3 linked regions of the Homo sapiens genome follow. The protein of the gene in region 1 purifies or fractionates together with the protein of each later gene. This does not show direct contact. Each region holds a gene or a part of one and is shown on either strand. Other genes may lie near its edges.

Region 1 (4,382 bases):
AAAAAAAAAAAAAGGCCAGACTTGGCTCACGCCTGTAATCCCAGCACTTTGGGAGGCTGAGGTGGGTGGATCACCTGAGGTTGGGAGTTCCAGATCAGTCTGACCAACATGGAGAAACCCCATCTCTACTAAAAATACAAAGTTGGCCGGCATGGTGGCACATGCCTTTAACCCCAGCTGCTCAGGAGGCTGAGGCAGGAGAATCACTTGAACACGGGAGGCAGAGGTTGTGATGAGCCAAGATCGCGCCATTGCACAACAGCCTGGGCAATAAGAACAAAACTCTGTCTCAAAAAAAAAAAAAAGAAACAAAAAAAAATATATATATATATATACATACCATAAAGTGAAATCAACAGCCACAACCTGGGAAAAAATACTTGCAACATGGCAAAGGATTAATATCCAGAAAGTATAAAGAATTCCTACAAACCAAGTAGAAAAACAGGCAAAAAAAAAAAAATGTTGGCGGGGCATGGTGGCTCATGCTTGTAATCCCAGCACTTTGGGAGGCCAAGGCGGGCAGATCACCTGAGGTCAGGAGTTCGAGACCAGCCTGGCCAACATGATGAAACTCCGTCTCTACCAAAAATACAAAAATTAGCCAGGCGTGGTGGCAGGCGCCTGTAATCCCAGCCACGCAGGAGGCTGAGGCAGCAGAATCACTTGAACCTGGGAGGCGGAGGTTGCAGTGAGCTGAGACTGCGCCTGCTCCAGCCTGGGTGACACAGCAAGACTCCGTCTCAAAAAGTAAAGAAAAAAAAAAAACAAAACAACATATTTCACAGAGAAGAATTTATGTTTTTGGAGAAGGAGTTTCGCTCCTGTCGCCCAGGCTGGAGTGCAGTGGTGAGATATCAGCTCACTGCAACCTCAACCTCCCAGGTTCAAGCGATTCACAGAGGACAATTTCTAAAAGGCAAATAAGAAGCAGGAAGGGTGCATGCTCCTTCTCTACTGCCCTGTAACAGTCATTCCACACTTACCACCTCAAAACAACAAATGCTTTTGATGTTGGCTCCTGTGGGGCAGCAATCTGCGGGAAGCTTAGCCAGGCACCTCTGGCTTAAGGTCCCTCCTGAAGCTGCAGTCACACCATGGACCAGGGCTGTGACCTCATCCGAAGGCTCAACTGGGGCTGAGGCCCACCTCTGAGCTCACTCAGGTGGACGCTGGCTGGGTTCAGTTCCTTGCTGGCTATAGGTGGAAAGGGCCCCCACCAGTTTCTTGCCAGCTTCTCCACAGGACGCCCCACAGCCTGACAGGAGCTTTCATCCAGCAAGCTCATCAGGGAGTGGGAGAGAGCAGCCAGGACAGGAGCCCAGACCTTTCTGAACCTCATCTCAGAAGTGACATCCTTCCCTTCTGCTGTCTGGGCACAGCTCCCCGGGTGGAGCCCGAGGACTAGAAGGAAAAGAAAACTTGGATTTAAAATGGGATAAAGCCATAGGAGCTGCTCGTCCCACCACAGGAATCTCAACGCCGGGTTACTGACAAAGCGTCACTTTGCACCTCGTCCAACTGTGCAGACCTCTCCTAGCCAGGCCCCTGCACCAGAGGTTAAGAATCCGTGCCCCTGGTCAGGAAGTCCAGGTGGGTTCAAACGGCCAGCAGGGAATTTCAGGCAAAATGTGTCCCAAATCTTCAAACCATGCCCCAGAACTCAGACCTCCCCCTGGGAGTTCGTCCCAAGGAAACCACCTGCAAGAGGCTCAGGCTGCAGGGGACACTCCGCTTCCAAAACCCGGAAGCTGGAGACCACACAAGTGCCCAACGCCAAAGGCACCCCGTGGAGGGACGCCCTGTGCCCTCCCCCGACCAGGTGACCCGCTGCGCCCTACACATCTTCACCAGGAAACATCTGTTATCGATGTGGACGAAGCGCAGCCTGCACTCCCAGATCCGCTCATTTTCGTTCTGCCCTCCGTTTTACGATTCGCCTACACTGAAAATGCGTGAGTGGAGTGGAAAGCCTTCCTACTCCTGCCTCAGCGACCCCTTCTAAAATACTGCCTCGTTTGGCCTGAAAATGTGATTTGCAGGCTTCCTGAGCAAAGTAGATTTCACTCCATTAAAGAAAAAAAAAAAGAAAAGGCACCGAACGGGGCTCGGCTGTCGGGAGTTTTGCTTTAGTTTTTTGCGTGTTTTGTTTTGTGTTTTTTTGTTGTTGTTGTTCTTTTTGCGGCCACGCACACCGCGTTCCCAGGCTTCAGGGCGTGGGGGTCGCCGTGGACTCCCGGACGTGAAAACGCTTAAAGCCAGCTGGGAAAACCCCACCAGCGTTTTCCGCGCACAGCGCCAGCCATAGGAAAGGACCCCCAGGAGCGAATCCGGGCAGGGAAACCCCGGACGCCCGCACACTCAGCATCAGTACCGGCACCCAGCACCCAGCACCGAGCACCGAGCACGCAGCACCCAGCACCGATCACCGAGCAGAGCACCCCGCACGCAGAACCCACCGAGAGCCTGATGCAGTCTCCGCCGCAGGCATAGCGCTAGGCCCCGGCGCCTTCACAACAAAGGGACGCTGGCGGGCGGGGCCTGAGAGGCGCGCGGTGGAGGGGCCGGGCGCGAGGCCGCGGAGACAGCTCGGAGCTCGGCACTGGGGAGTGGCACAGCGCTGGCGGATCCAGGTGGGCTTCACGGGGCGCCCGCGGGACCGGAAATGACGCGCAGAACCCTGCATCGGGCTCCTCGCTGCCCCGCGGGCGCCGCTCCTCAGTGCCCCAGAGCCACGGAGCCGGGGAAACGCGCCGCGGCCCACAACGCCCCCGCGGCTGCCCGTTGGTTCCGCCCGGGCCGTTCTACTCCAGGCAGACGGGAGGAGAAACACGGCGCGCTCAGCGTCCCCTCCCCCGTTGGTTCTGCTCGGGCCCTTCCACTGCAGGCCGACGGGGGTGGAAACACGCAGTTTTTTTTTTTTTTTTAAGGTCTAGGGTAACACGGGGCTTTTAAGTGCCTCTCCGCTGCCGCCTGGTGGTCCAGCCCGGGCCGTTGCAGTGCAGCCACACGGGGAGGGACACGGCGCGCCGAGTGCTCCGGGCGGCCGCACGTTGGTTCCGCCCGGGCCGTTCCACTGCAGGCAGAGGGAGAGGACGACGGTGCGCGTAGTGCATCCCCGTGGCCCGTTGGTTCCGCCGGGGCCGTTCCACTGAAGGCAGAAGGGGGGGGACCGTGGCCCCACCCCCCGCGGCAGCCCGTTGGTTCCGCCCGGGCGGTTCCGCCCGGGCTGTTCCACCAGCGGCACTTCAGGGCGGGATCGGCCAGTCTGTGGAGGCAGCGGCCTCTAAGCCCCGGAGGGTTTACTGCCCAGGTTTGGGTTCCAGGAATAAGAAATCCACTGAATAGGCTTAACTTAGAAGACACAAAGGCGCCTCCTGGCGGAAGTGGCCACGCTCCGCCCAGCCTGAGGGAAAGCTGCTCTGACAGCTGGGCCCGGAGCTGCGGGGGGCGGGGCCGCCGCGCGGGGTGAGGACTCGCCTCAGGGCGCTGATTGGCTGGTGGCGCGCTCCGGGGCGGGGCCTTCGTATCCAGGCTGGCGTCGGGGCTGCCGCGGGACATCCGGAGCAGACACCCGCGGGCGCGCCTGCGGCCCCGAGGACCCCCGGCTCCGGAGCTTCGTCGAGCGTTTTCCTAGCGTTACTTTCCCAAATAATTTTCAGGAATGAAGTTACGGCTAAAGGGCTCTTTAGAGATTACTTTTGGGCCGGGCCCGGTGGCTCACGCCTGTAATCTCAACACTTTGGGAGGCCGAGGCCGGCGCATCACGAGGTCAGGAGCTTGAGACCAGCCTGGTATGGCCAACGTGGTAAAACGTCGTCTCTACTAAAAATACAAAAATTGGCCGGGCGTGGTGGCGGGCGCCTGTAATCCCAGCTACTCCGGAGGCTGAGGAAGGAGGATCACCTGAACCCGGGAGGCGGAGGTTGCAGTGAGCCGAGATGGCGCCACTGCACTCCAGCCTGGCGACAGAGCGAGACTCCCTGTCAAAAGAAAAAAGAAAAGATTACTTTTGGCCGGGCGAGGTGGCTCACGTCTGTAATCCCAGCATTTTGAGAGGCTGAGGCGGGCGGATCGCCTGAGGTCAGGAGTTCGAGACCAGCCTGGCCAACATAGTGAACCCCCCCCCATCTCTACTAAAAATACAAAAAAAAATTACCCGGGTCTCGTGGCGCGTGCCTGTGGTCCCCGCTACTCGGGAGGTTGAGGCAGGAGAATCGCTTGAACCTTGGAGTTGAAGGTTGCAGTGAGGCGAGATAGCGCCGCTGCTCTCCGACCTGGGCGACAGTGGGAGACTTCATCTCATAAATAAATAAATAAATAAATATTACTTTTACGTTTTGTTAAACTTCCACTTGTTTTTGTTTCCGTTGCATGAACCT
Region 2 (3,645 bases), on another chromosome or scaffold:
TGATCCAGCCATGATACCTTTAGAGATAAGGGGGAAAAAACCAAGTTAACTTCTTGGACACTTTGATATTGATACTGATAGCAAAGAGTAGAAGCAAATCTAGGAACCCTGAGAATTCTGCCTCCTGAGAAAAATCACTCCGTGGGTCTGACAGCTTCTAAAATATACAACAGCCTATGTGTTTACCTGTAACAGAGGGAAAGAAGATTCCCACCAGAAGCGTGAAGGAGGTGGTGATGTCAACAAGAACATATTCATGGTTTAAGCTGCCTAAGACATCAGAAGATTTGGCTGAAGGCTTTTCGATGATCTCTCCCTTGGGTAGGTAATTACTCCAAAGATTCTCTGCAGTGGGAAAAATGGGAATTTAAGCAGCAGCAGTATGAAAAAAAAAAGATAATTAATTTTCTACCCAAACATTCAAAATCAGGCTCCTCATTTATACAGTTTCTAAAGGTGTGTTTGCTTCTACATGAGCACATGTATACACACACATTGCACAATAAAACACACATAAATAAAAACATAGTTTTTTTTTTGTTTGTTTGTTTTTTGAGACAGAGTTTTACTCTGTCACCAGGCTGGAGTGCAGTGGCACAATCTTGGCTCACTGCAAGCTCTGCCTCCCAGGTTCACGCCATTCTCCTGCCTCAGCATCCTGAGTAGCTGGGACTACAGGCGCCTGCCACCACGCCCAGCTAATTTTTTATATTTTTAGTAGAGACGAGGTTTCACCATGTTAGCCAGGATGGTCTCGATCTCCTGACCTCATGATCCTCCCACCTAGGCCTCCCAAAGTGCTAGGATTACAGGCATAACCCACGGCGCCCAGCTAAACATAATGTTCTTTCTTATCTAATTTAAATATAATTTGACAAAATGATTTGGTACATGCAAATATAGTTTAACTTTACTAATGCAAATTAGTAAAAGTTAAACAGACTAAAACTAAATGCCCCACAAATCCCATTATTATTTGTCATCAGTGCTGTTTCTAACACCTTAATGTAAACTTACTTATGTGCAAAGAAATTTATAGACCAAACATTTATAATAGAAGACACTTAAGGAATGTTTCAGGAATTTAGCTAAGTTAGGAAGATACATGTGGATGTGGACATTAAAACAGGTCTATTCTGTCAGTGCAGGAAGAACATTGGCAATTTTACAAGAATACACGGAATATTTTACCGTAAGGTTAGAAAGTGATTTGCTCAACTCTGCTCTGAAATGGAGGTGAATTTTAGCAGACATCACTCTGTAAAGGAGTACTGAATAAGGACAGCTTTACTAATGGAAAAGCAGAAATATGGTGAATTAAGAGCTGTGTGGTGTGCTTAAGAAGGGAATTAGCACCATGGCAGTGAATCTTTATGGACAGTAGAGGAATCTAAGATGACAAGGCCTATTTTCCCCAGAAAATAGGAAAAAACTTGTCCAATAACTCCCTAACTTACCTGTAATTATACCACTAGCCAATCCAGGAATGCCCTGGATTGAAGTGACGTTATTGTGAACAAAGTATTCATCACAGGTGGCATTGAAAAATTGACTCGAGTTACAGAAGAATCCCCATAACTTTGATGGGACTGTCATGTTGTTAATTTCCTTGGTCTTAGAGCAAACGTCAATGTGTCTTGATGAAAGGGTGCGGTTACCCAGCATGCAGACCCTAAGTGAAAAGAAATAGGGAGAAAGATCAAGTAAGGAAAAAAAGTACATTAAAAAAAAAGGAAACAGGTTAGTAAAGGAAACAAGAACCCCATCTTTAAGAGCTTCTACTGTTATGGGTGGGAAAGGAACTAATGTTTATTTATTTATAATTTATTTTAACACTGTGAATGGTGACTTACATTTTCTGCCAATTTAATACTTACAGCAACCTCACAATGTATTAGAATTTCTATGTTGTGGATGGAGGCACTGAAGTTTAGGAAGACAGGGAGTTAATTGAAGGTTAGGGAAATACAGTTATCTGTCCAAGGTCATAGGTGGTGGCAGTGAAGGAAGTCAAATTGAAGAACTGTCTGAAGACATTATGCTGACTCATCTTCCAAAATTTTTGGCTAAAATTGTTAGGTCTAAAAGAATACTGAAGTCCTTTTGTTGTTCTTATAAAGTAAAAAGCACTCCTCTTTTTTTGGCCTAGAAAAGCCTAACATTCATAACAAACACCTTGAAAATGTTATGCTAAAGGTTGAATCTTCTGGCTACTGTTGCAAGGAAAACAGCTTGGTCAGAATTAAAAGGCAGATCCCTCTATGGCCTAAGAGAAAACTGTTTTTGAATTTAAGCCTAGACTCAGTGGGAGTGACGGTAAGGATAACATAAATATTAACCTGCTGGTTTTACTTTTTTCTTTAACCCAGAGACACAAATATAAACAAAGGAATAATACATCCATAGTTAAAATACCTCTCAGGTCCAACAAAGGGACTTCTAAAATTTGCAAAATGATTGAATACATTATTATGAACCATGTACCTATTACTCAGCTTCAACAACTCTCAACATTTCCCAGTCTTGTTTCATGTATTATTCTAGATTTTTTGTCTTGTTTTGCTGGAATATCTCAAAGAAAATACCATGCATTATGACCGTGTACTAATCAAAAAAGAGGAGAAGCCCCAAAGGTGAACCTGAGACAAAATGGAATTTCCCAAATTGAGATATAACCAGAATGTCACCTTTAGAAATTTTATGCCCCTAAAAAGGACCTTCAGCTGTATTACAGTCCCTAGATAAGCAGATTAAAAGTTTAAGATGGAATCTACTTCTGCCATCATGCAGCATAGCATAGAAGAAATACTGAATGGGGAGTCAGGAAATCACAGTTCATCTTCTTGCTCTGCCATTAATTAACTTTGAGGTAAGTCATTAAACCTACTGGAACTGTCTTTTTGTCTTGAAAAATCTTTTTTTCTGTAATCTGGTTAAATCAACATAGAACCGATGAGTTTGATCCTCAGATAATCCAGATGACTCTTCAAGATAATTCTGTAACAAGACTACAAATAACACTGAGTGCCAGCTAGTCCCTATGCCACTAGTCAAAGGGAAAAGTGAGCCTGTGAGTCACAGATGTGCACAAATCCATTACTACTTCAAAAAACATACTTTAAAGTATTCGCACTAGGGAGTTGAAGGAGGTGGTGAATGATGAGAGAGTACTTAATGGGTACAAAGTACATTATTTGGGTAATGGATAAAAGCCCTGACCTAGGCTGGGCGCAGTGGCTCACGCCTGTAATCCCAGCACGTCGGGAGGCCAAGGTGGGCCTTATAAAGGTTGCTGGCAATAACTACACTGTCTGCAAAGCCCTTTATGAATAGTTCAAAATGTGTATAATAAAAAAAGATTATGTACAATTATCAGGGAGAAAAAAATCTAATATCTGAACCTAAATGATGGTTACAGCTACTAGTTCTATGCTTAGGACATAAGAAAGAGGATGAACGGGACATAGTTTGCTGGTAGGCTTCCTGCCTAGATGAGGAAGGAAGTCTAACTGGGCTTATCTGAGAGGGAAAATCTCAGAGAGACTCTATGAAATTCTGACTTAAAATTATCACACCACCAGATATTTTCAATTACTACCCAATAAGGATGGCTAGGCAGAGAGACAGACACGTACGGGAAGTGTG
Region 3 (4,310 bases), on another chromosome or scaffold:
AGCTTCATTGAAATGGAATACAAAGTTAGTTCTAAATCGGAGTCTAGTCCAAAATGCTTATCTGCTTACTTGTCTGTCTCTTTGCTAAACTGCAAATGTGTATGAGTTGTGTTTTACTCATCTCTGTATTCCCAATGACTGGCACATGGGAAAACAGCAAGTGTTTTAAGAAAGAATGAATAAATGAAAAAGCAAATTCAATAAACATTATAAAGACCTATGCAGCAAGAAAACAAACAAACAAACAAACAGATAAAATAGACACATTAATAAGAGACTCACATCCCCCTAACCCTGCAAAAAAAAAAAAAAAAAAAAAAAAAAACTTGATTCTCTTCCAAGATCTCATAGATCAACAAATGTCGTGAAATATAGTACAGTATAGTGGGAAAACTTAGACATGGGAGCTGGGACACATAACTAGATGTAGGGTTCCTCCTCTTGACTTCAGTTTCCTTACCCAGACAAAAATATAATACTAAAGTCCCTTTCAGGCTCTGATATTCTGATTCTATTAAGCATAGTAGTAACTGGACACTGAGAATTACAAAAACATTAGAAATGTAGAACATAAATAGGCACTCTGACTTATGAATTTCTAGCTAAAGTACACCAAACAGGGAAACAAAATACCAAAAACACAATCAAGAAAGAGTGGACATTCACCTAAGCTACCTGCATTAATAGCATGGACCAGGAACCAAGAGCTTGCAACAGAAGATGGATACCTCAAAGGAATACTGGTTTCTCTCCTGGGTTCCTCAGCGGCCAAACTTACTCTGTGACCTTGGCTGGCAACTTAACCTGTCTGTGCATCATGCGCAAAATGAGAATCATATTAACCTCTACCTCTTAGGGCTCTTAAGACGTTTAATTGAGCTAATATGCATAAAGTGCTGAGCATTGCTGTGTGTCATAAACAATAAATTTTAAGAAAAGAAAAAGCCTCCAGGCTTGCCTACTCCTCAAAAGCGAGCACAACCACGCCGCTAACAGTAGACTCACATTTCTTTCCTCTGTCACACTGTAGTAAGACCTTCACGATGGCTCCATATTAATCCCCCACCCTTACATTATTTTGGAAAAAAAATAATTAGAGCCCAATAAGCCCTCTCTTCAACTTCAAACTTCAGGCATGCATGTTCAAGATAAATAAATTACCATTTTAATGTTGTATTTCATCAAATTTAAGACAATTTTTTTACACATTTTAGCATCAGTGAAATAGGGATGCATCTTACAATAGATGACACCTTAGATCAGATGAATGTGGTAATAATGTTTTGGGGTTATTTTCCATTCCAAATGTTTGTTTCCATGATTTCATGAATTGCATAGAATCTTTTGTAGCCTTCCCAAGAAAACTTACCACTGTTTGTAATGTTATTTCTATGAGAAAATTAATAAAAGAATATATGAAAAAAATGAAAATGTTTTGTTAAATGGTGGCTTCTTAAACACCAAAGATCATTTCCAAAATTCCGAACCAAGGTCTGTTAAACGACTAGTGAGAAAAAAAATTCAATGACAAATAAACCAAAGTTCTGATCACGCCATCATCAATAACAAGTGAAACTGATAACAAATATGATTATCTGAAGAGTGGGAAAATGATTCAGGTAAATTGGCTTCAATTTTTGTCCACCTAACTCATTTTGCAGAATGGCCACCAGGTTACACAGTCAAGTCATGTAGCCCTAGATTCACTCATCTTCATGGGAAAAAAAGAAGAGGGGAGTGCAGGGGACAAAACAGACAAACCCAGAAACACCAAAGTGCCATCAGTGTTTTGGGATTTTTTTTAATACAGTATTGGAAAGCCGCAGCTTCAGTCAAGGACCATTCCGTCCTGTGTATAACTACATCTCACAGCTGCACCTTCCCCACTGATAACCCACAACATCAAAAAATGTTAATCCTTGTTCAAGTTACTGAACTAATTCATTCTCTCTCGCGCTCGAGCGCTCTTTCTCTCTCTCTCTTCCGCTCCCCCCACCCCCATTCCCCTGAAATCAATGTCTGAAAAGCACATTTCTTCTTCTGAAGCTGTCAGGATAGACAGACATTCAGCCCCATTCAACCGAGGAGGGTGGGTAAACTGCTTCTCCCCGCGCCCCGTCCCGCGCGAGCGCTCACAATGGGCTGCATAGTCCCGCAGGGGCTGAAGAGTTCAGGAAACCCAGACTTGCAAGGCGCCCAACTTCCACCCATCTCCGATCCTTGCTGGAGAATGGGTCTGTGTCTCGGAGAGTGGGCAGCCCAAGATGGACAAGGAGAGAAGTTTGTGATCAGTTTGGCTAAGCTGGGCGTGGGGAGGGAAGGGGGAAAGAACCACCCCGAAATCTCCATCCACCGCCCCCTCAGCCAGCCGTCCCCTCTAAGCACGCCGTCCACAAATTAACAAGCCGTTGTTTCCTCAGCTTCATCAGTTCTTTATTCCCCAGCCACAGCACCACCACTGTCCGCCAAAAAAGAAAGAAAAGAAATCCGAATTGCAATCCCTCGCCTTTCTACTTAGAAATGCTGGAGCTGCGCTGACCGCTCTCCCTCCCTTCCTCGCAGTGAAACTCTCTGCGTTTCCGCTCTCCCTCCATTCCTCGCAGGGAGGCCCGAATGCTCGCCGCCTTCTCCCTCTCTCGGCCCGGCCGGGGTCGCCTCGCGGCGCCGGGACCCGAAGGCCAGGCTCGCGGGCCCCTCCCAGCGACAGCCCGAGCCCGGCCCGCTATCTCCACCGCATCTCACAGGCTGAGCCCACCCGCGCGTCTGCTCAGCTCTCCGCGGGGACCTCTCCTCTCCTCACCTCGTCCGCTCTGGGGCGCCGACTTGTCCCCCGCCGCCTCGAATCTTCCGAGTCGCTGCAGGGGAGGCTCCGAATTCCTAGAAGAAACTGGGATGGAAGGCCGGGAAGTAGGAGGTGTTTGCTCAACTTCTGAGGACGTCACGCCTCTGCCTCCCGTAGCCAATCAGCAGCCGCCCTGAGGGAACAACCTTCTCATCTGCCAATCGGCGGCGCTGCCAGTTGCTACGTCATGCCCGGCCCCTGCTCCTCCCCAAGATCCTTCTGTCTCTGATCTCTGATCTCTGACCTGCGTTCTTAGCTGGGACGTCGAGTTCTCCCAGGATAATTATCGACCAGGTTTGTAACTGTCCGTGGCAGAAGGCGGGCGGGGACGGAAAGCAACGAAAATAGTCTGGGCATTACGCTCTAAATAGAGGTGCACATCTCCTGGGGAAAAGTTGCGAGCGCCGGTACCTCACGTTTGTTTAGCTATAGACACTTTTCAAAGCATTTCACCGCCTTGTCACAACCCTGTGAAGCCAGATAACAGTTCTTACAACAGTTTTAGAAGCCAGCAAGCGGAGAATCTGAGAAATTAAAACTGAGTGTGTTCATGTGCATATGGCAATGTCCAATGTTATTGAAAAGTCCTAACTACCTAGGAGGCCTGGAGGGAGGGGGAAAACGTATTTCATAGACACTAGCCCCAGCACTAGGAACTGAAGAATCGTCTGAAGCCCAGCTGTGATTCCCCAAGGCGTCAACGGTCAGAAGTTAATCTTCCCTCCTGTTTTTACAACTTTCTCCACCACTTACTCTTCTTATACCTGCCATAGATGTATTTAGCTACTGAACTCCTATGTCAACAATCTATAGCCAGAACGTTCTTGAGACTCCACTCATATCTCCAATTGCAGAGAAAATTATTTATTTATTTATTTGTGGTAGACATGGGGTCTCGCTGTGTTGACCAGGACACTGGTCTGGAACTCCTAGCCTCAAGCTATCCTCCCACCTCGTCCTCCCAAAGCACTGGGATTACAGGTGTTAGCCACTGTGCCCAACCCCAAATTAGAATTTTATCTGTAAGTAGAGTTGGAATTTTCTTCTGTATCTTCAGCTTCACATTTCCAAAATCGGATCCCTTATCATTCTTGGAAAGTCTTCCAAAGGCTGTGTAGTGGTTCACACCTGTAATCTCAGCACTTTGGGAGACTGAGGCTGGAGAATCACTTGAGCCCAGGAGTTTAAGACTAACCTGGGCAACGTAGCAAGACCTGTGTCTACTAAAAATAAAAATAATAAAAATAAATAAAATTTTAAAAAGCCAGGTGTAGTGGCACATACCTGTGGTCCCAACTACTTAGGAGGCTAAGGTGGAAGGATCACTTGAGCCGCAGGATGTTGAGGCTGCAGTGAGCCATGATCATGCCACTGCACTGTAGTCTGGGTGACAGAGTAAGACCCTGTCTCAAAAAATAAAATAAAATAAAGCCTTCCCTTTTGTGCTCACCAGCTCTGTTACTAATAT

The links.
Region 2: the proteins of SLC35E2B (region 1) and SLC12A6 purify together in Homo sapiens (affinity purification with mass spectrometry; one large-scale study listed by BioGRID and IntAct). This does not show direct contact.
Region 3: the proteins of SLC35E2B (region 1) and AASS purify together in Homo sapiens (affinity purification with mass spectrometry; one large-scale study listed by BioGRID and IntAct). This does not show direct contact.

The regions. Positions count from the first base shown.
Region 1 is NC_000001.11:1,689,990-1,694,371, forward strand, and holds the start of SLC35E2B (solute carrier family 35 member E2B), read right to left. Parts: upstream 2,807-4,382; 5' UTR 2,460-2,806; intron 1,405-2,459; 5' UTR 987-1,404; intron 1-986. UniProt on the Homo sapiens protein: Putative transporter.
Region 2 is NC_000015.10:34,250,713-34,254,357, forward strand, and holds part of SLC12A6 (solute carrier family 12 member 6), read right to left. Parts: coding exon 3,636-3,645; intron 1,673-3,635; coding exon 1,458-1,672; intron 346-1,457; coding exon 187-345; intron 18-186; coding exon 1-17.
Region 3 is NC_000007.14:122,141,361-122,145,670, forward strand, and holds the start of AASS (alpha-aminoadipic semialdehyde synthase, mitochondrial), read right to left. Parts: upstream 2,890-4,310; 5' UTR 2,801-2,889; intron 1-2,800. UniProt on the Homo sapiens protein: Bifunctional enzyme that catalyzes the first two steps in lysine degradation.